4 linked regions of the Homo sapiens genome follow. The protein of the gene in region 1 interacts with the protein of each later gene in a pairwise test. Each region holds a gene or a part of one and is shown in the gene's direction. Other genes may lie near its edges. The genes, in order: PSMA3, LETM1, SLAIN1 and DGLUCY.

Region 1 (3,698 bases):
AGTTGTAGAAAATCAAGATCCTCTCATATTATAGCAAGGTTTTAGAAGACCCTCCAAAAAGTAAGGTATGTAACTCAGTGCATAGTATTAGATAAAGCTATACTCTGCTACTGTACTTAATTTGATACTTTTTTTTTTTTGAGATGGAGTCTCACTCTGTCGTCCAGACTGGAGGGCAGTGGCACGATCTTGGCTCACTGCAACCTCCGCCTCCCGTGTTCAAGCAATTCTCCTGCATCAGCCTCTCAAGTAGCTGGGATTACAGGCGCCCACCACCACACCTGGCTAATTTTTGTATTTTTAGTAGAGACAGGCTTTACCATCTTGGCCAGGCTGGTCTTGAACTCCTGACCTTGTGATCCACCCACCTTGGCCTCCCAAAGTGCTGGGATTACAGATGTGAACCACCGCACCTGGCCTCTTGATACTTTTTATGTTACTTTAATATGTTGCATGACAGTGCCTCCTTCTTTGCTGTAATTTGTAAGGTACTACAATGTGAAGGCCAGGTTATGTGGCATATATGCCATTATAAAATGGACAAGGAGCTTAAAAAGACTACTGCCAAGAAGCTATAGGTTGAAGAGACCACTAATAATTGCAAGCACATAAATTAGTTTTTTTTTTTTTATTTTTTTGAAACAGAGTCTCACTCTGTTGCCCAGGCTGGAGTGCAGTGTCGTGATCTCAGCTCACTGCAGCCCCTACCTCCTGGGTTCAAGCAAGTCTCCTGCCTCAGTTTCCCGAGTAGTTGGGACTACAGGCCTATGGCCACCTCACCTGGCTAATTTTTGTATTTTTAGTAGAGACGTGGGTTCACCATGTTGGCCAGGATGGTCTCGAACTCCTGACCTCATGATCCACCCGCCTCTGCCTCCCCAAAGTGCTAGGATTACAGGCACGAGCCACCATGTCCAGCCAATTAGTTGGTTTTAAATATATTTAAGTTAATGGACAAAATATTCTAAAAGGGCACAGTTAATGACGCCTCTTCCTAGTGAATCCGTGTTCTTTATGAGGTATCTTTTATAGTTGTATCTTTTTTTTTTTCTGAGATGGAGTCTCGCTCTACTGTAGCCCAGGATGGAGTGCAGTAGTGTGATCTTGGCTCACTGCAACCCCTGCCTCCCGGGTTCAAGGAATTCTCCTGCCTTAGCCTCCTGAGTAGCTGAGATTACAGGCGCCCACCACCACACCTGGCTGATTTTTGTTTCTTAGTAGAGACAGGGTTTCACCATGTTGGCCAGGCTAGTCTCGAACTGACCTCAAGTGATCCATCCGCCTTGGTCTCCCAAAGTGTTGGGATTACAGGTGTGAGCCACTGTGCCCAGCCAAGTTATATCTCTAAAGCAATGTGCAAAAATAAACTGAACTTGGGTTGATTAGGTATATTCAACATTTGTCGGGAGAGTAGATGTTTCATTTTATTTCAGTCCCTGTGTAATTTGTCTTCTCTAATGTTAAATACTATGTAGAATGTGTCTGTGTAATTTTATAGATACTTTTATTATGGATGGACATTCTAATTTGTACTGACTTTGGGTCTGTGAACTACTTCAATGTTTGGAGGTTACCAAAATCTTACCTTTCCCTTTTCTATTCTAGAATTTACATAGTACATGACGAAGTTAAGGATAAAGCTTTTGAACTAGAACTCAGCTGGGTTGGTGAATGTAAGTTATTTTTGTACATTTATTTGCCTTAGGAATGATCTGTACCACAGCTAATTTACAACTGAGTGTCCTTTCTAATATAATGAAAGCTAAAGCAAATTTACTAGGTTGTCTAATGAAGGGAAAGTTCTGCTTAATAATTGACTTAAGTTGTGAACACGTTATTTTTTGAAACATCCATTTCATGGTTTTAAGATACTATGCTATAAATTAATGCTCAGGATTTATAAATAGCATAATTTACTTTCATTTCCATAAGAACTTAATATGTAGGCACATATAATCTCATGTAGAAGCAGCACACAAAAATATTCGAGTATTACTCATAGTACAACTTTGCAACCTTAGGTGAGTCAGATATGTGGATTGGGTAGATCCTATGGTATACTGCAAGTTACAATATGGTACTCAATTTAAAATTCATTTACACATGTGGCTTAATTTACAGTAACTAATGGAAGACATGAAATTGTTCCAAAAGATATAAGAGAAGAAGCAGAGAAATATGCTAAGGTAAGCCACAGCACAAAAACTTCTCTTGGCCAGGTACAGTCAGGGAATCACTTAGCCCAGGAGTTTGAGACCAGCCTGAGCAGCACAGCAAGACCCCCATCCCTAATTTAAAAAAAAAAAAATTCTCTAACCAAAATTATGTGTTGAATAATATAAATAGACTGGGGTGGTTTCTATGAAATAACACTGAGAGTTCAGTTGAACTAAAGATAGAAATTTTCTAGGTTATCTCTAGTGGGTAAAGTTGCCTTGGTTCCAAAAAAAAAAAACTTGGGAGGTTTAGACTGCAAAGAGTTTTTTAGGACTTTTAATACTTTAAATATTTGTTCTTTTTTTTTTTTTTTTTTTTGAGACGGAGTCTTGCTCTGTCACCCAGGCTGGAGGGCAGTGGCACCATCTCTGCTCACTGCAACCTCTGCCTCCAGGGTTCAAGCGATCCTCCTGCCTCCGCCTCCCAAGTAGCTGGGATTACAGGAACATGCCACCATACCTGGCTACTTTTGTATTTTTGGCTTCACCAATAATACAGAGACGGGTTTTCACCAGGCTAGTTTCAAACTCTTGAACTCACGTGATCTGCCTACTTTGGCCCCCGTAAAGTGCTGGGATTACAGGCATGAACACTGCACCAGGCCTCTTAAGTATATATTCTATCAAAGATACAGTCATTGCATGTTAGAGCAACATTTGCTTAATTAACTTTGCTTGGGTATCTTATTCTGAAACTGTTCATTCAGTTACAAGTAGAGGAATTTAACCACTTAATTCAGGTTGTTGTAGCTTAACTTGCCCACAGGTGTGGGATATAACAATTTTAAAAATCAATTTTAAACACCTGTTTTCTCTTAACAGGAATCTCTGAAGGAAGAAGATGAATCAGATGATGATAATATGTAACATTTACTCCAGCATCTATTGTATTTTAAATTTCTACTCCAGTCCAATGTAACTATTTAGCCCTGGATTATACATACTGTCCAATTTTCATTAAATTTTTGTCTTATAACTATTGAAGTTTGGTTAATATCTGCTTTACAAAATTGGTGGGGGTAAATGAGGACATTTACTCAGTATTAAAATATAGATTTATGACTACTGAAAAATTCCCTGGTTAAAATGCTGCAGAATTAATTCCAAGACTGTAGATTAATTCAAAGCCCCATCTTCATCACTCAACTAGAATTTACAGATCATATTCTCCTGGGCTTTTGTACAAAAAGCACCTACCAACTTAGTGGACAAATAACTGATACGGTTTCCCACTTTCATATGAAGTAACTGGTGGTCATCAGTCACTGTTAATCTTTAGATGTGATACAGATGACAGATGTTTCAGTTTTGGATAATTTTTCAAAAACTGACCCTTCTCAAAAAAGACCCTTCAATACATGAGTCAAGGATGTTTTTGCTTTTTTCCTTTATTGTGGTGAGGGGCGGATTTAAGGATCAATAAAGTCCCTATTCTGTCACTAAAAAAATTTCTTGATCTCTAAAGATTAAAATAAAAATACC
Region 2 (7,036 bases), on another chromosome or scaffold:
GCACCAGCTCCTGCTGTCCTTCACGGTTCTGAAAAGATTCTCCATTTTCTGTCTTTGTTTCAGGGCTGCAATCTAGATGTTTTCTTTCTATTTTATTCATTCTCTTTTCAGCTGAAGTAATCTTGTTTAATGCAGCCACCAAGGTTTTATTTTCAGTGCCTATGTTTTTAACTCTAGAAGCTCAATTAGTTTATTTTAAATTAATTTTTTAATTTAAAAGAGATGGAATCTCACTTCAGAGGGGTAAACCTTGTGTGATGTAGGTGGTGAGCTAGTTTCTTCAGCACAGATATTGTTTGCTTCTGTGAGAGCCATGGGACACCATGGGCCTCAGAGAGTGCAGCCCTATGTGGGAATCGAGTCCACTCTCTCCCAGGTGCAGCCTCATCTCCTGTCTGCTCCATCCTTTCCTCCCAAGAACACCTCATGGTTTCTAGCTCTTGGGGTTTATATTACGTTTTTGTGGCTCTACTATTTATTTACTTATTTTTATTTTTGAGACAGGTTCTCGCTCCCCCACCCAGGCTGGAGTGCAGTTGCAACCTCATGGCTAACCAAAGCCTCAGCCCTCCCGGGCATAAGGGATCCTCCTACCTCAGCCTCCAGTGTAGCTGGGACCACAGACGCACGCTGTCATGCCAGGCTAATTTTTAAATTTTTCGTAGAGACTGGGTCTCACTATATTGCCAAGGTTGGTCTCAAACTCCTGACCTCAAGCAGTCCTGCTGCCTCGGCCTCCCAAAGTGCTGGGAGGCCTTCCTTTTTAAAGATAATCCTGGCCGGGCGCAGTGGCTCACACCTGTAATCCCAGAACTTTGGGAGGCCGAGGCGGGCCGATCATGAGGTCAAGAGATCGAGACCATCCTGGCCAACACGGTGAAACCCTGTCTCTACTAAAAATACAAAAATTAGCCGGTCGTGGTGGCGGGCGCGTGTAATCCCAACTACTCAGGAGGCTGAGGCAGGAGAATCACTTGAACTCGGGAGGCAGAGGTTGCAGTGAGCCGAGATCGCGCCCACTGCACTGTATCCTGGAGACAGAGTGAGACTCCATCTCAAAAAAATAAAAAGTAAAAAAAAAGATAATCCTGTGCACTGAAATGTGCTCTAAAAGGTTGGGATTTGCAGTTCTGCTTTTGTGTTTACAAACATTTAAGAAGTTATTTTCTTGGTTGGGTGTGGTGGCTCACGCCTGTAATCCAGCACTTTGGGAGGCCAGTGCTGCAGATCACCTGAGGTCAGGAGTTTGAGACCAGCCTGGCCAACATAGTGAAACCCTGTCTCTACCAAAAATATAAAAAAAAATTAGCTAGGCGTGGTGGCGCATGTCTGTAATCCCAGCTACTCTGGAGGCCGAGGCAGGAGAATCGCTTGAACCAGGGAGATGGAGATACAATGACCCAAGATCAGGCGATTGCACTCCAGCCTGGGTGACAGAGCTAGACGCCATCTCAAAAAAAAAAAAAAAAAAAAAACTTGTAAATTTGGATTTTAGTGATGGTTTTGCAATGTATAAATTTACCAAAAATCATCAAATTTATTTAAAATAGTTGAATGTTATGGTATGTAAATTACACCTCAGTAGAACTGCTAAAAAAATTAATGAGGCATATCAAAAAACACATGTGCCAGCTTTAAGGATATGTCCTGCCCAAATATGGCACCGTTTGGGAATAAAGACAGCCGTAAATTGTAAATCAGTCAAAAAATACAGGAGTCCATGGGTCCAGTGCGATAAAAAAACAGAAAAATGAATGTATAGGAAGGCAGGGTTCTCCCCTCCTGCAGATGACAAGATAGGAGAGTTAGGCAGCCACTGTTTTGTGCCCATGAGAGTGGAGGCTGGCTCAATGAGCGCGGGGTCGGGAGAGAGGCTGATGAGGAGGAGGACATTGCTGCTCTCAGGGCGTCTCCCTGGGAACGCTCACTTGTTGCCAGTGGAAACGCAGGAAACGTAGGAACTACATGGAACACCTTGGCCAAGGGACCCCTGTGAGCAGCACCAAGGAGGGGCAGCATCACCCGCGCTGTTTTCCAGCAGTTGTTCAGGCTTCACAGGGATTTCTGATTATTTCAAATTGGATGTTTCTTTAATGGCATCAAGTACTAGTTTGTTTATGTCAATGAAATACTTGGGTTTTTTCCTAATGATTGCTTTGTAGTATAGTCTTAGGAAACACAAGAGAAGCCCTCCTTATAGAGCACCCTCCAAGAGAAGGTGTGGCTCAGCCTATCCTGGTGACTCTCCACCACGCTAGTAATGCCCAGTCCTCAGCCTGCAGCCCTCACTTGCTGGCCCCCGAGCCCAGAGTGCTGGCCGGTGTCCTCGGAGGACTCGATCGCTGGGAGCACCCAGTGGCCCTTGGTGTCAGCACCATACCCTGCTTTTCTGGAGGCTGCTGGTACCTGCTTTGGACCCTGAGAAAGAAGTGGGTTTTGGGAATGGTCTGCTAAGTGGTTCTGGAACTTAGAGTCCTCAGTGGGTCCTGTGAGTCGCTGCCTGAGGTTGTGCCTATAAACCATTATAGGAGAAATGCTCACACCCCTTGCCCTTGTTCCCACATGTGCTCTGCTCCCCTCTGATGGATTCCGCCCCTTCCAGTTTCTCCGGATCTGCGCTGACCTCTTCCGCCTGGTGCCGTTCCTTGTGTTCGTGGTGGTGCCGTTCATGGAGTTTCTGCTGCCTGTTGCTGTGAAGCTCTTCCCCAACATGTTGCCATCCACATTTGAGACTCAGTCACTCAAGGTAAGGGCAGCATCCCAACTGCTTGTTTTAGAATGAGTCTGAAATTCATTGTGATGGCTTCCTTGTTTGTGACTTTTCAGGTGCTAGATATTTTTGAGACTTTATGTATCTTCATATTGTCCTTGTGCTGTGCAATAATTATTTAGTGGATGCTGGGTTTTGGATTTGTTTCTCTTTATTTCGTTATTTATTTATTTATTTATTTATTTTTGAAACAGGGTCTCGCTCTGTCACCCAGGCTGGAGTGCAGCAGTGCGATCTTGTCTCACTGCATACAACCTCTGCCTCCCGGGTTCAAGCGAATCTCCTGCCTCAGCCTCCCAAGTAGCTGGGATTATAGGCATGTGTGCCACCATACACAGGTCTCGCCCTGTCACCCAGGCTGGAGTGCAGTGGTGCGATCACGGCTCACTGCAGCCTCAAGTTCCTGGACTTAAGTGATCCTCTTGTCTTAGCTCCCGAATAGCTGGGACTACAGGCTAAGCCACCACATCTGACTAATTTTTTTTTGTTTTTTATAGACAAGATCTGCTATGTTGCCCAGGCTGGTCTCAAACTCCTGGGCACAAGTAATCCTCTTGCCATGACCTCCCAAAGTGTTATTATGGGTGTGAGCCACTGCTTCCAGCTCAATGTATTTTAAAATACAGGTTTTCTAGACCAGGAACACTCCCCTACCGGTGCTATAGGGGAGTCATGAGGTCCTTCTAGGGCAGGGTCAGCCAGCTGCAGCCCACAGGCCAGATCAGGACCCTGCCTGTTCTCAGCAGAGCCCTGTGGGGACCTGCGATGCCCAGTCATGTGTCTTGTCTGTGAGGCACCAGCAGAGTTAAGCATTTGTTTTAGACCACACAGCCATGAAGGCCAGACGCCTTCCTGTCTAGCCCATTACGGAAAGTGTGCCGATCCTTGCTTTAGGGAATCACACGAGTTTGTTTGTTTTTGTTTGTTTGTTTGTTTGTTTTTGTTTTGTTTTTGTTTTTTTTTTGAGACGGAGTTTCGCTCTGTCACCCAGGCTGGAGAGTGCAGTGGTGCAATCTCAGCTCACTGTAGCCTCCACCTCCTGGGTTCAAGCGATTCTTGTGCCTCAGCCTCCCAAGTAGCTGGGATTACAGGTGTGCATGCCTGGCTAATTTTTGTGTTTTTAGTAGAGACGGGGTTTCACCGTGTTGGCCAGGCTGGTCTCAAACTCCTGACCTCAGGTGATCCACCCACCTTGGCCTCCCAAAGTGCTGGGATTACAGGCATGAGCCACTGTGCCCGGCCCACACGGGTACTTTTTAAAACCATGAAATAAAAGAGTTTGAGAATGTATTGCACTTAGATGAGAGTCAGTGTGTTGTGAAATGTTTCTGGGAGTGGGGGTCGGGCACAGGCGTGAGATGTTTTCCTTGCCCGAACCACAGTCTGAGCAGTTGGAATGCAGTGCCCTCTCTGCCCTTGCAGGAGGAGAGGCTGAAGAAGGAGCTTCGGGTCAAGCTGGAGCTGGCCAAGTTCCTCCAGGACACCATCGAGGAGATGGCCTTGAAGAACAAGGCAGCCAAGGGCAGCGCCACCAAAGACTTCTCTGTGTTTTTCCAGAAGGTGCTGTGATACGTCTGAGTCCCTGTGACCTCACCAGGGAGCCTTCCCTGATTTTCTGTTTCCCTTTCGCTGTGCTCAGCAGAGTGGAGCTCCCCCAGGTGCTGGCTGGCGCTTGAAAGTTTACCCAGGAGGCTCAGTCGGGGGCCAGTGGAGTGTCAGGAGTCTGCCCCCACGAGCTCCCAGTGAGTTAAGCTGTGGTGGCTGCGCCTCGTCAGCCTTCAGAATTATGGGCGTCTGTGTCTCATCACCCTGCAGCTGTCCAGGAGCAGTAGAATCTGACCCATGAGGAGCCTGAGACCCTGATGGTGTGAGGTGTGGGTGGCTTGGCCGGGCTCCTCTGCTGGGCATTGCCCTCTGGCTGGAGTCAGTCAAGAAGATCCCAGGTCCCAGGGGCTGGTCAGAGGCCTGGACTGTGGGAGCAGTGGGGGCTGGAGAGGAGGAGCGGCCCTTGAGGTTTCCTGCGGTCATGTGGTGAGTGAGGTGAGGATGGGGAGACGGCAGCTGCCACGGACCGAGATCCCTGAGGACTAGATGGGGTTCACGAGGCCGGTGTTGTTGGCTTGAGGGACTTGTGCCACTTTGGAGTGAGAAGGATGTGTCTGAAGTGCAGGAAGAGCTTAAACCAGGGCCTAGAAACTCCAGCCATGCGTGTGCGTTGTCTGTGGGGTTTTCCCGCTGCAGCACAGAGGCGAGTGGTTTCCATGGCTGCAAAGCCAGAAATACTTGCTGTCTGGCCCTTGACAGAAAAGACTGCCAGGCTGAGGCCTAACCACGGAGAAGCCTCTCGGGAGGAGGCGACACAGCCATGGGGCTGCTGAGCCCCCCAGGGAGTGGGTGGTGGTTCCAGCAAGATGTTTTAGGGGGAGCCATGCTTTGGGAGCCTCACCCAGGACATCGTGCCTTGCAGAGCAGGAGGGGCCCGTCCCAACCTTTCCTGGGCCGCCCAGCTGCCAAGAAGGATGTGCTTGCAGTCACCTGCACGGGGGTGTGCTGCATAGGGCCGCCCCCAGGAGCACACCTGAAATTGTGTCTCAGAGCTGGCATCCTGCATGTTACGATTTGAGTTGGGCACCAAGTCAGCCTCGTCCTCCCTCATCTGTCACCTCTGCTAGGTACCCTCCTAGCCCAGCTCTTGGCAGAGACTGAGCTGGTGGCTTGTCCCTCAGGTGGTAGGAACTGCAGAGGATCACCCAAAGGGCCCTGAGTGATCCACGCTAAGGGACTCTAGCTCTCCCTAAAGAGCTAGATGGCCACCCCTCCCCCAAGGCTCAGGCAGTCATCCGTGGGAGATGTAGGTGCACACAGGTGCACCTCTTCCTGCCCCAGAGCAGCAGGGTCCCGGCCACTTCTGTGGCAGAGAGAGGATCACAGGACCTGCATGCAGCAGCCTGTGGGCCCGGGCGTCTCCCCCAGCAGACAGCAGCCTCAGCTTTGCTGGTTCAGGCAGGAGAGGTCCACAGGCCAGACGCCACCTTTCCCCAGGCTAGCCCAGCACCGGAGTCAGAAGTCAGTGGTTTGAGGCCAAGCTGGGCAGGTGACTTGAGGTCGGGTATTTGAGACCAGCCTGGCCAACATAGTGAAATCCCATCTCTACTAAAATACAAAAATTAGCTGGGTGTGGTGGCGCAGCCTGTAATCCCAGCTACTCGGGAGGCTAAGGCAGGAGAATCCCTTGAACCCAGGAGGTGGAGGTTGCAGTGAACCGAGATTACACCACTGCATTCCAGCCTGGGTAACAGAGCGAGACCCTGTCTCAAACAAAAAAAAAAAAGAAGAAGTAGTCAGTGGTTTGAGTCCCTGAGGATGAGAGGCAGCACCCTTTGGGAATGTGGTTGGTCGTGGGAGGGAGCCGGGTGGGCGCGTGTCCCGGGGATGACCCTTGTGACCACTTCCGCAGATCCGGGAAACAGGGGAGAGGCCCAGCAATGAGGAAATCATGCGTTTTTCCAAATTATTTGAGGATGAGCTGACCCTGGACAACCTGACACGGCCGCAGCTGGTGGCCCTGTGCAAGCTGCTGGAGCTACAGTCCATCGGCACCAACAACTTCCTGCGCTTCCAGCTTACCATGCGGCTGCGCTCCATAAAGGCAGACGACAAGGTGAGCCTGGCCATACTCCGCGCCACAGCTCTGGTGTTTTACCTTTTCGTTTCCTGATGATAAAAGCAGCATGTCCTCATTGTAGAAACTCTGGAAGATGCTGAACGATCGAAAATAAGCTCACTAGGAGTCTTGCCACTTGCAGATTGCAGATCCTTTGAAGATGGATGTCTTTTCTCTGGCACCTTCTCGGATGATCTCTCTGTTTGGATTTCGTCAGATTTATAATAACTTGCTTAGTTGTGTCTGTCTTTGTGTTCATCCTGCTTATTGATGACAGTGCCTCTGTGCCTCTCTCCTCACATCAGGGTCTTCATCGAGGGTCCATTTGCCCCTTTGCCCTGTCCTGTCCATCGCACGTGCTTGCCTCTGTGCTTCACGCCCTTTTGTGCTTTCAGGGCGCTGCCCTCCTTCTAGGTCTGATTACTCCTTTTTTTTTTTGAGACGGTGTTTCGATCTTGTTGCCCAGGTTGGAGTGCAGTGGCGAGATCTCGACTCACTGCAACCTCTGCCTCCTGGGTTCAAGCGATTCTCCTGCCTCAGCCTCCAGAGTAGCTGGGATTACAGGCGCCCGCCACCATACCCGGCTATTTTTTGTATTTTTT
Region 3 (7,036 bases), on another chromosome or scaffold:
AACCTAGCTTTCTGTCATCAGGGGAATAATCACATTTATACAATGGAATACTGCTTAGTAATACAGCAACACAGGTGAATCTCACAGACAAAGTGTCGAGTGAAAGAAGCCAGATTAAAAGGTTAACATACTAATAAGTCTATTCCTAGGAAGCTCAAAATAGGGAAAAACAGTCTGTTGTGATAAAAGTGGGAATAACACTTACCTTTGGGGGAGTTTTGACTAGGAAGAGGCATGAGAGAGCATTGTAAGGTGCTGGTGATGCTTTTTATCTTGATATGATTAGTGGTTACATGAACATATGCACTTTGAAAATTCACTGAGCTGTAGACTTAAGATGTATGTATTTTATGTATATTATGCTTCAGAAGAAATTGAGCCAAATTCATGTGTTGAAGGTTTTTAAAAAATTAACACTTTTTTGGAGCAGTTTTCAGTTTATAGAAAAATTGAACAGGAAGTACAAAGAATTCCCATGTAATCCCTCACCCTCTGTATCTTCCTAGTTTCCCCTATTATTAACATCTTGTGTTAGTGCAGTAGACTTGTTACAGTTGCTGAACTAGTATATTAAATATTTGCATGGTTAAAAACTAGCAAATTAAGGCATTACAGAATTGATTAGAAAGAATCTTAGAGATGATTCGTCAACCAAGAGGACTTTGCTGTGTCACAAAGCTAAATGGGAACACACCTAAGGGAGGATCTTACATAGACTTTATTTTTATAAAGCTTTTTGACTACTATACACATGTATCAACATTTCTTTTTTTTTTTCTTATTTCAATAGTTTTTGGGGTATAGCTGGTTTTTGGTTACATGGATAAGTTATTTAGTGGTGATTTCTGAGATTTTGGTGCACCTGTTACCGAAGCAGTGTACACTGTACCCAATATGTAGTTTTTATCCCTCACCACCCTCCCAGACTTCCCCACAAGTCCCCAGAGTCCATTATCTCATTCTTATGCCTTTACATCCTCATAGCTAAGCTCCCACTTACATGAGAGAACATACGATATTTACTTTTCCACTCCTGAGTTATTTCACTTAGAATAATGGCCTCTGGTTCCATCAAAGTTGCTGCAAAATATTAATTTGTTTCTTTTTATGGGTGAGTAGTATTCCTTGGTGTATATATACCACAGTTCTTTATCCACCCGTTGGTTGATGGGCACTTAGGTTGGTTCTATATCTAAGCCATTGCAAATGCTGTTGCTATAAACATGCGTATGAATGTGTCTTTTTTTCAAATAATGACATCTTTTCCTTTGGGTAGATACCCAGTAGTGGGATTGCTGGATCAAATGGTAATTCTACTTTTAGTTCTTTAAGGAATCTTCATACTGTTTTCCATAGTGGGTCTACTAATTTACACTCCCACCAGCAGTGTAAAAGTGTTCCCTTTTTGCCACATCCACACCGAATCTATTGTTTTTGACTTTTTAATTATGGCCATTCTTGCAGGGTAAGGTGGTATCTCATTGTGGTTTTAATTTGCATTTCCCTAATGATTAGTGATGTTGAACATTTTTTCATTTGTCTGTTGGCTGTGTATCTTTTTTTGAGAAATGTCAATTCATGCTCTTTGCCCACTTTTTGATGGGATTAGTTGTTTTTTTTCTTGTTGATTTATTTGAGTTCCTTGTAGATTCTAGCTATTAGTCCTTTATCAGATGCATAGTTTGCAGATATTTTTTTCTACTCTGAGTTATCTGTTTACTCACTGATTATTTATTTTGGTGTGCAGAAGCTTTGTAGTTTAATTAGGTCCCATTTATTTATTTTTGTTTGAGTTGCCTTTGCTTTTGGGATTTTAGTCATGATTTCTTTGTCTAAGCCAATGTCCAGAATAATTTTTCCAATATTATCTTCTAGAATTTTTATGGCTTCAGGTCTTATATTTAAGTCTTTGATCCATTTTGAGTTGATTTTTGTATAAGGTGAGAGGTAGGTATTCAGTTTCATTCTTCTACATGTGGCTTGCCAGTTTTCCCAGCACCATTTACTGAATAGGGTGTCCTTTCCCCAATTTATGTTTTTGTATGCTTTATTGAAGATCAGTTGGCTGTAAGTATTAGGGTTTATTTCTGGGTTCTCTATTCTGTTCAATTGGTCGATATGCCTATTTTTATAGCAGTACCATGCTGTTTTGGTAACTATAGCCTTGTAGTATAATTTGAAGTCAGTTAATGTGGTACCTCTAGACTTGTTCTTTTTGCTTAGTCTTGCTTTGGCTATGTGGGCCGTTTTTTGGTTCCATATGAATTTTAGGATTGTTTGGATTGTTTTTTCTAGTTCTGTGAAGAATGATGATGGTATTTTGATAGAATTGCATTGAATCTGTAGATTGCTTTGGGCAGTATGGTCATTTTCACAGTATTGATTCTTCCATTTCATGAGCATGGGATGTGTTTTGTTTGTGTCATTTGTGATTTCTTTCAACAGTGTTTTGTAGTTTTCCTTGTAAGATTTTTCACCTCCTTGGTTAAGTATATTTCTAAGTATTTTATTTTATTTTTTATAGATGTTGTAAAAGGGATTGAGTTCCTGATTTAATTTTCAGCTTGGTTGTTGTTGGTATACAGCAGTGCTACTGATTTGTGTACATTGATTTTGTATCCTGAGACTTTACTGAATCCATTTATCAGATCTAGGAGCTTTTTGGATGAATCTTCAGGGTTTTCTAGGTATCTAATCATATTATTGGTAAACAGTGACAGTTTGACATCCTCTTTTCCAATTTGGATGCCCTTTATTTCTTTCTCTTCTATAAGTACTCTGGCTAGGACTTCCTGTGTTATGTTGACTAGAAATGGTGAAAGTGGACATTGTTGTGAAGGACGTTTTGTTCCATTTCTCAGGGGGAATGCTTTCAACTTTTCCTCGTTCAATATGATGTTGACTATGGGTTTGTCATATATCGCTTTTATTACTTTGAAGTAAGTCCCTTGTATGCCTGTTTTGTTGAGGGTTTTTATCATAAAGGGATGCTGGATTTTATCAAATGCTTTTTTGTATCTGTTGAGATGATCATATAGTTTTGGTTTTTAATTCTGTTTATGTGATGTACCACATTTACTGATTGGCCTATGTTAAACCATTTCTATATCCCTGGGATGAAACCTGCTTGATCATGATGTGTTATCTTTTTGATAGCACATGTATCAGTATTTCTGTGTATAGATTTTGCCTTGTATAATTAAACACATTTTTTAAGGAAAAAAAATTTAAGGAAAAACTATTTTTAAGGAAATATTTTCAAGAGATGATAAATAAAACCATAGATACTTTTTTGGGTCTTTTTCCCCCTTATATTTATTTCAAAAAAGTATTTATATATTTCATGATTAAGTAAATTCAACTGTTTTAGAAAACAGGGTATGTCCATGTTTAACCATGTTGCCAGTACTAGGCATCAAAGGCTTGGGTAGTTAGTATGTAAGCAGAATTCTGTGCATAAGTTTCTATTAAATTTGATTGTTTTCCTTGGAGAAAGGGATTAAAAAATTTAAAAACTTCTGCCTACCAGTTTGTTACTTTTAATGTGAAATGATACACAAAGTTGGATCAGTATATTGATGAAATTTTTAAGGGTTCTTATCCAGAGAGTTCCCAGTGCCCTTCATTTTATAGGTTTTGCTACTATTATAAATGTAATAATGCCCAGCAACTCAGATAGATAAATGACATAATGAATATTATTTAAGGAATATATCTGTAATAAACTGTTTGTACCTACAGATACCACCTTGTCTTCTTTTCTGTAATTACAACTATTAAAGTATCTCCTCATTTTATTTTCTTGGAACCACCACCAAAGCAAGCATCAAGAAATCCTAATGTCTAGCAAGCAAACGGGGAAGACTTTCTCTTGTGAGAACTCAGACATCATCACATTTGTAAAGGAAAGGAGGCTGTGCTTAGAACTGGCTTCTGCATATAGCCAGGCACTCCAAAATGTGGCTGATGGACAGACCAGGAGATCTTTGTCAAGGATTAGAATTTTCCATTTCTCAGTGCTGTCTGGAACCTATATTCTGTTTTTCTCCTCCTGTGTATATTGTACTCTCAGGCATAATGGACTCTTCTGAAAATAACACACATTTCCTAAGTCGGATAGTGGTAGAAGGTTGCTCACATGAATATCATTTTCTCTTCTAGTTCCATCACCGGGACAGCTTCAACACAGGGTCCACAGCGTGGGGCATTTCCCAGTGTCTATCCGACAGCCTCTTAAAGCCACAGCCTATGTGAGTCCAACCGTTCAAGGCAGCAGTAACATGCCTTTATCAAACGGCTTACAGCTGTATTCCAACACAGGAATCCCCACACCGAACAAAGCTGCAGCTTCTGGGATAATGGGTCGCAGTGCACTCCCAAGACCTTCGTTGGCAATAAATGGGAGTAACCTGCCTCGAAGCAAAATTGCACAACCTGTTAGAAGGTAAGAATGTGTATTTGCGTAACTTCATTTGCAGTTTGGAACTAGAAACTGCTCCAGACACACGCTGACTTTTCCTTTGGCTCACTTTAACCTTAGTAAGACACTACCCTTTATGGCCTGACTTGTGCTCTCCTCCCTTTGAAAAGTGATGGATATCCCTGTGTGGGTCAGGTCCCCTTCTCTCTGATGTCATTTTCTTCCCTTACTCCCTCATCACTATCACTCCTAAGACGCTCTTTGCTTTTGCTTTTACCAGATAAGCTCTGTCTCCAGAGCTTTTGTAGCTTTCTGCTCCCAAGTTATTTGCATGGCTTGCTCTGTGCCTCCCTCAGGTCTTTGCTCAGATGGCAGCTCTATCCAAAAATTGTAGGGCGGGGGGAGGTTGACTTTTTGGTTCATTGCTGTGTATCCCCGATGCCAAGAACTATGCCCAATACAGGTAGGATCTCAAATATTTGTTGAATCAGTCATTTTTAATCAAAATATGGAAAAATGTGTCAGGCGTATGTGCACACGCACACCCTCCTCCCACACATTTATGGTTTGAAAAGCATCTTAATGACATTCACCTGGGGCTTTATCAGCTTATGTTGGTAAGTTCAGTATGGTCCAGGTAGTAATTTTTTTTTTTTCCCTTCAAAGTTTCAGAGTACTTCAAAGGACATTTAGTCTAGCTCTTGGTCATGATGTTCCCTTCTTGAACTGGATATCATGGAGTATCTTATATTAAAAATCCATAAAAGTGGTTTGAGGAGAGATTGGTAGATGAGGAAATAAAGACAATAAATACAGACAGCTCTTTCAAGAAATTAGGATATGAAGGAGAAGGAGAAAACCATAGTAAAAAGTTTGAAAGAGGTGGAACAAGCAATTTTTTTCTGTCTTTATGCATTTATGGATATATAAATAGTTTTATTTTGTTTTGTTTGTTTAGAAGTAATAGATGCTCAGATCAACAACAAATTTCGAAAAACAGAAACTATTGAAAAATAGAAAAGTAAAGACTGACCCATAATCCTACTGCCAGATAGAAATAATTTTGGTACATGTTTATTTATTCAGTAAGTTTTGGCTTATTCTGCTTTGTAAATGCAGAGCTGTGTCATCATGCTGATGGCTGACTAGAATCACATTATTTGATGTATATGGTTATTGTAGACCATACATTTATCCTTGACTATGTGTCTCCAAACTAAACTCTTGGAAAGGTCACTGCTAGACAATGTGAGATGGTCTATTTCCCCAAACTTAAGCAAATGCTAGGTATTATTCTTTTTAATTGTTTTAAATTTAAATTTTTTATTTTATCTATTCTTTTTAGAGACAGGGTCTTGCTCTTTTGCCCAGGCTGGAGTGCAGTGTTATGGTTGTAGCTTGTTGTAACCTCAAACTCCTGGGCTCAAGTGATCCTCCTGCCTTGCTAGGACTACAGTGCATATCACCACTCCCAGATAATTTGAAAAAAAAATTGTAGAGACAAGGTCTTGCTATGTTGCCCAAGCTGGTCTTGAATTCCTGGCCTCAAGTTTTCCTCCTGCCTCGGCCTCCCAAAGTGTTGGGATTATAGATGTGAGCCACTGCACTCAGCCAAAGATTCTTTTTAAATGTTTTGCGAATATGATAGGCAAATCTTCAATTACTAATAAGGTTTTGAAAATGTCTTCATATTCATTTGCTGTTTGTATTCAACAGAGTAACCATTTATGTTTTTAGGTCATTTTTCTAGCCAGGATCCTATATTTTTCTTATTTTAAAATATGTTTTATACATTAAGGGTATTGGCCCCTTTATTTATGTTGCAAATTTTCTTGTGCAAATACAACATGCATGACACTTTGCCATGAACTGGGGCTCTGGGAGATAAGCATGCAGTGAAGACCCGTAAGTGTGAACCACAAGGTACACTTGAGATGGTGCCAGTGGCTTCTCATTACTGCAGTGGAAGAACATAGATGGGAGAGTAGGTCAAAGTGAGTGATGTGACTCATAGGATTATTAACAATCTCTCTCTCTGTTTTTCTTGTCTCTTTTTAGTTTTCTTCAGCCTCCAAAGCCTCTGTCTTCACTCAGCACTCTGAGGGATGGAAATTGGAGAGATGGTTGCTACTAATGCAGTTTTATGTACCCTTGAAAAATGGGAAAGAAGTAAAAATGAGGGTTGTGTTACCTAGCTGGCTGGGTAGCAGTGGATGTTGGGATATTCTTTCCCTTTTGTGTTTTAATATATTTACTGCATTGTTTCTCAATGGACCAGTCACCAGAGACTAATTATTGCACTTAAATATTTGCCTGAGATACTGCAACATTCTCAAACCCATGGTTGCAGTATTGTGACACTTAGATCTAGGAAGTTTTTGTAGAACTGCTCTGTACCTGAATACTTTTTGAGAGAATTAAGATGTATCAATAATGCTTTGCCATATGAGTTTTTTAAAGTAACTTGTTCAATTTACTCACGTGTTCTAAACATCTTTCCATTACATGTTCTGTATTTTAATACATTGCATATTGACAACTAGGTTCTATAATGTATGCTTTGAAATTTACTTTTTTATAGTTTACAGGAATTTTATTTTTTGTGCCTATTTCTTT
Region 4 (7,036 bases), about 33 Mb from region 1:
CACAGCTGTACTAGTCTACCAAAGGGGTCCGTGGCACACAAAAAGTTAAGATTCCCTATTTTAAACCAGTAATTAACAGCAAACTCCCTCTCTCTATGTCACATAAAAATAGAAGCTAATTTCTATAACAGCTACTCCTCCTTCATTTAGCTGCCTTGAACTCTTGGTGCTCAGAGCTTGGATCTGTGCTAATTCCATTTTTTAACATTTTCACTTGATTTTTTTTTTTTTTTGGTCAGACAACAGTGCCTTGTGTTACCCATGCTGGCTTCTGCTGCCCTCTGGTGGTCACGATGAGGCCCATTCCCAAGGACAAGCTGGAAGGGCTGGTGCGGGCCTGCTGCTCCCTCGGAGGTGAGCAGGGGCAACCTGTTCACATGGGCGACCCAGGTCAGTGTCTCTCGCTCCTGCCCATGATCTTCCTGTTCACATGGGCAACCCAGGTCAGTGTCTCTCGCTCCTGCCCATGATCCCCCTGTTCACATCGGCGACCCAGGTCAGTGTCTCTCGCTCCTGCCCATGATCCTGACAGCCTCTCTTGGAGTTGGGCCTAAGAAGCAGACAGGAGTTTGCCACGTTCCTAAGCTCCCATGGCTTGTCTTTGTTTTTACCAGGGGTCTCCAGGGGCAAAGGCCCTGAACAAGGCTCAAAGGCTCTGGCAGCTGTATCAGGGCTGGGCTTACAGATGCCCCTCAGGTTTAAAGGTGCCACCCTTGGCAGAATAGCCAGTCTCACTGTGATGTAAGTTTATATATATCACATCCTTTTGGGTTTTTACCGAGGCTTAATAATACATACATAGGAAAAAATATATATATATATAATGAATATATATATTGGGTTTTGTCCACAATTCCTGGCTCATAACTCCTAAAATTCTTGGAACCTCCAAAATGCTGTATTTTGTCTGATAGGTTCAGGGTGGGGCTGGTCACCAGAAAGACTAAGGTAGGATTAGAGGGTTGGGACTTTCAGCTCCACCCCTCCCCGCAACCTCCAGGGAGGAAAGAGGGGCTAAAGGTCAAGCTGATTACCCACGGCTGATGGTTTAATCAATCATGCTCATGTAATGAAGCCTCCGTAAAACCCCAAGAGGATAGGCTTCAGTGAGCTTCTACATAGCTGAACACATGTAGGTTCCTAGAGGGTGGTGCCTAAGGAGGGCATGGAAGCTCCGCACCCCTTCCCCCACACCTTGCCCTGGGCATCTCTATCTGTATCCTTTGCAATATCCTTTATTTAATTTAATTAAATTAATTAATTTATTTATTTTTGAGACACAGTTTCCCTCTGTCGCCCAGGCTGGAGTGCAGCGTTGCAATCTCAGCTCACTGCAACCTCCATCTCCTGGGTTCAAGCGATTCTCCTGCCTCAGCCTCCCAAGTAGCTGGGATTACAGGTGCCCAACACCATGCCCAGCTAATTTTTGTATTTTTAGTAGAGATGGGGTTTTGCCATGTTGGCCAGGCTGGTCTTGAACGCCTGGCCTCAAGTGGTCTGCCCGTCTTGGCCTCCCAAAGTGCTGGGATTACAGGTATGAGCCACCGCACCCGGTCTGCAATATTTTTTATGATAAACTGGTATACATAAGTAAATGTTTCCTCAAGGTCTGTGAGCTGCTCCAGGAAATTAATCAAACTCAAAGAGTTTGGGTATAATCAAACCCAAAGAGGGTTAATCAAACTGGAAGCCAGTTGGTCAGAAGTTCTGGAGGCCCAGACTTGCAACTGGTGTCTGTAGGGGGGTGGCCTTGGGGACTGAGCCCTCAACCCGTGGGTTCTGATGCTATCTCCAGGTGGAATGGAATTGGAGGGCACCCAGCTGGTGCCTCCTGCTTGATGGTGGGGAGAAACCCCTACAAATTTGGTCACAGGAGTCTTCTGTGTGGATGACTGTTACTGCGGTGTGAGAGCAGAGGAAACACACCATTTAGGTAGAGTTTTTTTCTCTACACGCTCACCCACTGGGGATCTTTGATAAATGTAAAGCTCCTATGAACTTCCAATGAATCTGGGGTTGGAGGAAGCCAAGGGTTGCAGCAGGGCTCTTTGTCCGGAGATTTGAGCTCGAAGCAACGTCTAATCTGGGCTGCTATTCTTTGGTATATTTGGGTAGGAGATGGCTTTGTTCCATATGTTAATTTGAGCTGAAATCCATTGATCCCCAGCGTATTCACTCAATCTGAGAGTGAGTGAACAGATCCAAGATGAAGAGCCAATATCAAGAAGCTGTGCAGGCCTCTTAGAAGGCCTGATGAGAGTTTGAGACTGGGCCTTGGTTGAGGGTCCAAGTTTGGTATACCTAAACTTGCTCAACTGCATAACCGACAACATTAGACAGAACCTAGCCTTTTGTGAAAATGCAGTCAGTACTTGCTAGCTTCATCACATGAGGATGATTCAGGGCCACCCACCAGGATGGTGTCTGCTGAGGAGTTTTATCATTAGCGGGGATGGATTGGGCCCAGCACATCCATCTTTGCTGTCTTCGGGATTAGGTTGCTGCTGGTAGTCAAGCAGCTGAGGTTAGGTGCATGAGATGTGACCCAGCCTGGACCAAGGTCAACCCCCCAAGGCTGGCTTTGGTAGCAATCTGCACAATGAGAGTACTAGGCTCAATGCACCCAAGGATCCTTCCAGAAATCACGCCACACAGTTTGAGATTCTGTTTTCTGAAACCACCATGCCACATGGACTGTAAATTATGGAGTAGCCTGAGTTGTCAAAGCCTTAATCCCTATTCTCCTTCACCTCTTCCTCAAATACCATTTACAATAATCCTGCAATTTGAGTTTCTGTTTTAGAGAAAGAACCATAAACTACTCAACCAGTTCTAATTGGATGCTCCCTGCTGAGGAAATTACATTTTCCTTTTCCATCTGCAGAACTGTTGGGAATCAAAGAGCTTTCCAAACCTGCCTACGGGGATGCCATGGTGTGTCCCCCAGGGGAGGTTCCAGTGTTCTGGCCTTCTCCGCTGACCAGTCTCGGAGCTGTCAGCAGCTGTGGTACGTTGGGGGATAATGGGACAATCGATCTGCCCTAGGATGGAGCCCAGTGGGGTCTAGTTCTTGAAAGCATATTCTCGTAGTACAATGATTTAAAAATAAAGCCATGAAACAAAACACAAAACAGAGGCCTACAGCTACAGTGAATCTCTCTCTGGTTTCCTTCTTTTATTTATTTATTTTTTTTTGAGACAGGGTCTCACTCTGTTGCCAGGCTAGAGTGCTGTGGTGCAATCTCGGTTCACTGCAACCTCCAGCTCCCTGGTTCAAGCGATTTTTCAGTCTCAGCCTCCTGAGTAGCTGGGATTACAGGCATGTGCCACCATGCCCAGCTAATTTTTGTATTTTTAGTAGAGACGGGGTTTCACCATGTTGGCCAGGATGGTCTCAATCTCCTGACCTCGTGGTCTGCCCACCTTTGCCTCCCACAGTGCTGGGATTACAGGCGTGAGTCATCGCGCCTGGCCTGGTTTCCTTCTTTTAATCCCAGGGCTGGATCTCCTTACCAGAGCACTTTGTCTTACAACTCAATTTTTTTGTCGTTGGTTTTTTGGTTTTGTTGAGACACAGTCTCACTCTGTCGCCCAGGCTGGAGTGCAGTGGCACGATCTCGGCTCACTGCAAGCTCCGCCTCCTGGGCTCCAGCGAGGGAGGTGTGCCTCAGCCTCCCAAGTAGCTGGAATTACAGGTGCATGCCACCACACCTGGCTAATTTTTGTATTTTTAGTAGAGACGAGGTTTTGCCATGTTGGCCACGCTGGTCTTGAACTCCTGGCCTCAAGTGATCCTCCCACCTCAGCCTCCCAAAGTGCTTGGATTGCAGGCATGAGCCACCGTGTCCAGCCTCAAATATGTTTTGATTAAATATATTTCCTTCCTTCCTTCCCTTCTTCTTTCTTCTTTCTCTCTCTCTCCCTTCCTTCTTGTCTTGTCTTTCTTTCTTTCTCTTTCTTTCTTTCTTTCACAGAGTCTCACTCTATTGCCAAGGCTTGAGTTCAGTGGCATCATCATAGCTCACTGCAGCCTCAAACCTCTGGGGTCAAGTGATCCTCCCATCTCAGCTTCCCAGGTAGCTGGGACTACAGGCATACGCCGCCATACCAAACCAATTTTTAGAAATTTTTTGTAGAGATGGGGTCTTGTTACAATGTCCAGGCTGGTCTCAAAGTTCTGGGCTCAAGTGATTCTCCTGCCCCAGCCTCCTGAGTCATAGGGATAACAGCATGAGCCATTGCTTCAGCCGTTTTGATTAAATATATATTTTTATCTGCTGAAGCATCCCAGCCCATTCTAGCAGGAGGACTAACCTTTAGCTTGGCTTTTTGAGACATTTTGGAGATTGATGGGGCCTTGAAAACAAAGGTGAAGCCAAGAAATATAACTAAACAAGTCATTTCCTGTGGTATTTGCAAGGTGATTATAAACAAGGCCAGCAGCAGTACATTTTTTCCAAGGCCTAGGTGATATTACAATGAAGAGACACACGAGGGCGCCCTCGCTAGCTCTCAGTAAGATAGGAAGGTGACAGAAACATGAAAAATAACAGCTATTGCAGACCATGGTCATGGACACTGGAAAATTCTGGCCAGGCCAGCCACACTTGCGCTGTAAGCACATACTGTAGTGTTACTTTAATTTATTTTGAAAGCATTCGTGAGAGTTCAGCTATCAGAATGGCCTCATGCGAGGGAAAGATCATCCCTAATGTGGTGATGAGGCGTGGCTGCCAAGATCCACAGGATTCCATTTGTTCATTTATTTAAGTGCATGTGTTGAGAACCTGCTATGTGCCAGGCATGCACCCAGGCCTCAGGAGTACAGTGCTCCATGGGACAGGATGGAGTCCTCTGGGCGCTCATGGTCTTGTCTGAGTGTGTGTGTGGGCATGTGTGTAGACACACCCACCCACGTGCAGTAAACGTCCCCCAGCCCAGTGGCCTCACCGCTTTCCCACCATCGGTCGTGGCAGGTGCCCTGCAGAGGAGATCTCACTGCTGTGGGCACCCCAGCATGGCATGTTCCAGTCCTTTAGTTCTGACAGCGATAGCACAATTGATCGTAGATGAGAACAAATGACATCAGAGAGGGACAATCTTGAATCATTCTCAAATTCCCTTTTTTTTTTTTTGAGACAAGGTCTCGCTCTGTCACCCAGGCTGAGTGCAGTGGCACGATCACAGCTCACTGTAGCCTTGACCTCCTAGGCTCAAGCAATCCTCCCACCTGAGCCTCTGGAGTAGCTGGACTACAGGTATGCACCATCATGTCCAGCTAATTTTTAAATTTTTGTGGAGATGGGGTCTCACTATGTTGCCCAAGCTGGTCTTGAACTCCTGGGCTCAAGCGATCCTCCCACCTCAGCCTCCCAAAGTGCTGGGATTATAGTCGTGAGCCACCATGCCTACCTTGAACTTCAATATTTAAACTTCTATTAGCAATAGATTATGTGCAACAGACCTCACAACTGATGGGGGCAAAACCCCGTGTCATGCTCTGAGCTGACTGTTCTGACATCTACCTGGTTTTGGAGTGACCAGTTTTAGGTGCCATCCAAAACACAGACAAGCGATAATTAAATTCATCATCAGATTCAAGACTTTTTCCCCTTACACATCAAATCTAAAAGTTATGTATCTATTAGATTTTTATTTTGAAGTGCTGGCTGACTCTTTCTATTAAATATGAAACTTTAAGCCAAGTGTGGTGGCTTACGCCTGTAATCCCAGCACTTTGGGAGGCTGAGGTGGTCGGATCACTTGAGGTCAGGAGTTCAAGACCATCTTGGCCAACATGGTAAAACCCTGTCTCTACTAAAAATACAAAAATTAGCCAGGCGTGATGGCACACACCTATAATCCCAGCTACTTGGGAGGCTGAGAATTGCTTGAACCCCAGAGGCGGAGGTTGCAGCGAGCTGAGATCTCACCACTGCACTCCAGCCTGGGTGATAGAGCGAGACTCTGTCTCAAAAAAAAAAGAAACTTTATTGTTTCTGTGAAATCCAAGATTTATTTACTCAATTCACATCTGCATTTGTTGAACACCTATTATGCGCAAGGCCCTCTGTGGGATCCTGAGATGAATGAGCAATGGTCGCTCTTCTCCAGGAGCATACAACTGAGTAGAGATGAATACTCAAAGATAGTAATGACACTGAGGAAGGCAGAAGAGGTAAATAGTATGGTATTAAGCACTTAATGAGCTAGGCATAAGGAACTAAGAATGAGTAAGATACTACGTGGTTCAGGCCAGGCTCTGTGGCTCATGCCTGTAATCCCAGCACTGTGGTAGGCTGAGGCAGGAGGATTGCTTGAGCCCAGGAGTTTGAGGCCGCAGTGAGCTGTGTTGCACCACTGTACTCCAGCCTGGGCAACAGAGCAAGGCCTTATCTCTTTAAAAATATATATAGATGAGGCTGGGTGCGGTGGCTCACGCCTGTAATCCCAGCACTCTGGGAGGCTGAGACAGGAGGATCACCTGAGGTCAGGAGTTCGAGCCAGCCTAGCCAACATGGCAAAACCCTGTCTCTACTAAAAATACAAAAATTAGCCGGGTGTAGTGGTGCACGCCTATAATCCCAGCTACTCAGGAGGCTGAGACAGGAGAATTTCTTGAACCCGGGAGGCAGAGGTTGCAGTGAGCCGAGATCGCACCACTGCACTCCAACCTGGGCGACAGAGCAAGGTTCCGTCTCCAAAAAAAAAAAAATATATGCTTGTTCAATTAAGCAAACCATCGAGGGCTTACTCTGAAACAAGCACTTTGCTGAACACTTTCTTAAAAATTTATTTTTTTTTTTTACATTTTTAAACCACGAGTATGCTAAACACTTTTTTTTTTTTTTTTTTTTTTTGAGATAAGGTCTTGCTCTGTTGCCTAGGCTGGAGTGCAGTGACGTGTTCTCAGCTCACTGCAGCCTCTGCCTCCCAGGTTCAAGCAATTCTCCCACCTCAGCCTCCCAAGTAGCTGGGATTACAGGCGCACCACCAAGCTGGGCTAATTTTTGTATTTTTAATAGAGACAGGGTTT

What was found.
Region 2: the proteins of PSMA3 (region 1) and LETM1 interact in binary tests that used the Homo sapiens proteins (3 or more experiments, as listed by UniProt).
Region 3: the proteins of PSMA3 (region 1) and SLAIN1 interact in binary tests that used the Homo sapiens proteins (3 or more experiments, as listed by UniProt).
Region 4: the proteins of PSMA3 (region 1) and DGLUCY interact in binary tests that used the Homo sapiens proteins (3 or more experiments, as listed by UniProt).

Annotation. Positions count from the first base shown.
Region 1 is NC_000014.9:58,268,813-58,272,510, forward strand, and holds the end of PSMA3 (proteasome subunit alpha type-3), read left to right. Parts: intron 1-1,605; coding exon 1,606-1,673; intron 1,674-2,121; coding exon 2,122-2,186; intron 2,187-3,038; coding exon 3,039-3,083; 3' UTR 3,084-3,192; downstream 3,193-3,698. UniProt on the Homo sapiens protein: Component of the 20S core proteasome complex involved in the proteolytic degradation of most intracellular proteins. This complex plays numerous essential roles within the cell by associating with different regulatory particles.
Region 2 is NC_000004.12:1,832,139-1,839,174, reverse strand, and holds part of LETM1 (mitochondrial proton/calcium exchanger protein precursor), read left to right. Parts: intron 1-2,602; coding exon 2,603-2,746; intron 2,747-4,192; coding exon 4,193-4,330; intron 4,331-6,227; coding exon 6,228-6,431; intron 6,432-7,036. UniProt on the Homo sapiens protein: Plays an important role in maintenance of mitochondrial morphology and in mediating either calcium or potassium/proton antiport. Mediates proton-dependent calcium efflux from mitochondrion.
Region 3 is NC_000013.11:77,756,667-77,763,702, forward strand, and holds part of SLAIN1 (SLAIN motif-containing protein 1), read left to right. Parts: intron 1-4,161; coding exon 4,162-4,444; intron 4,445-6,478; coding exon 6,479-6,554; 3' UTR 6,555-7,036. UniProt on the Homo sapiens protein: Microtubule plus-end tracking protein that might be involved in the regulation of cytoplasmic microtubule dynamics, microtubule organization and microtubule elongation.
Region 4 is NC_000014.9:91,173,050-91,180,085, forward strand, and holds part of DGLUCY (D-glutamate cyclase, mitochondrial isoform b precursor), read left to right. Parts: intron 1-239; coding exon 240-390; intron 391-2,884; coding exon 2,885-3,007; intron 3,008-7,036. UniProt on the Homo sapiens protein: D-glutamate cyclase that converts D-glutamate to 5-oxo-D-proline.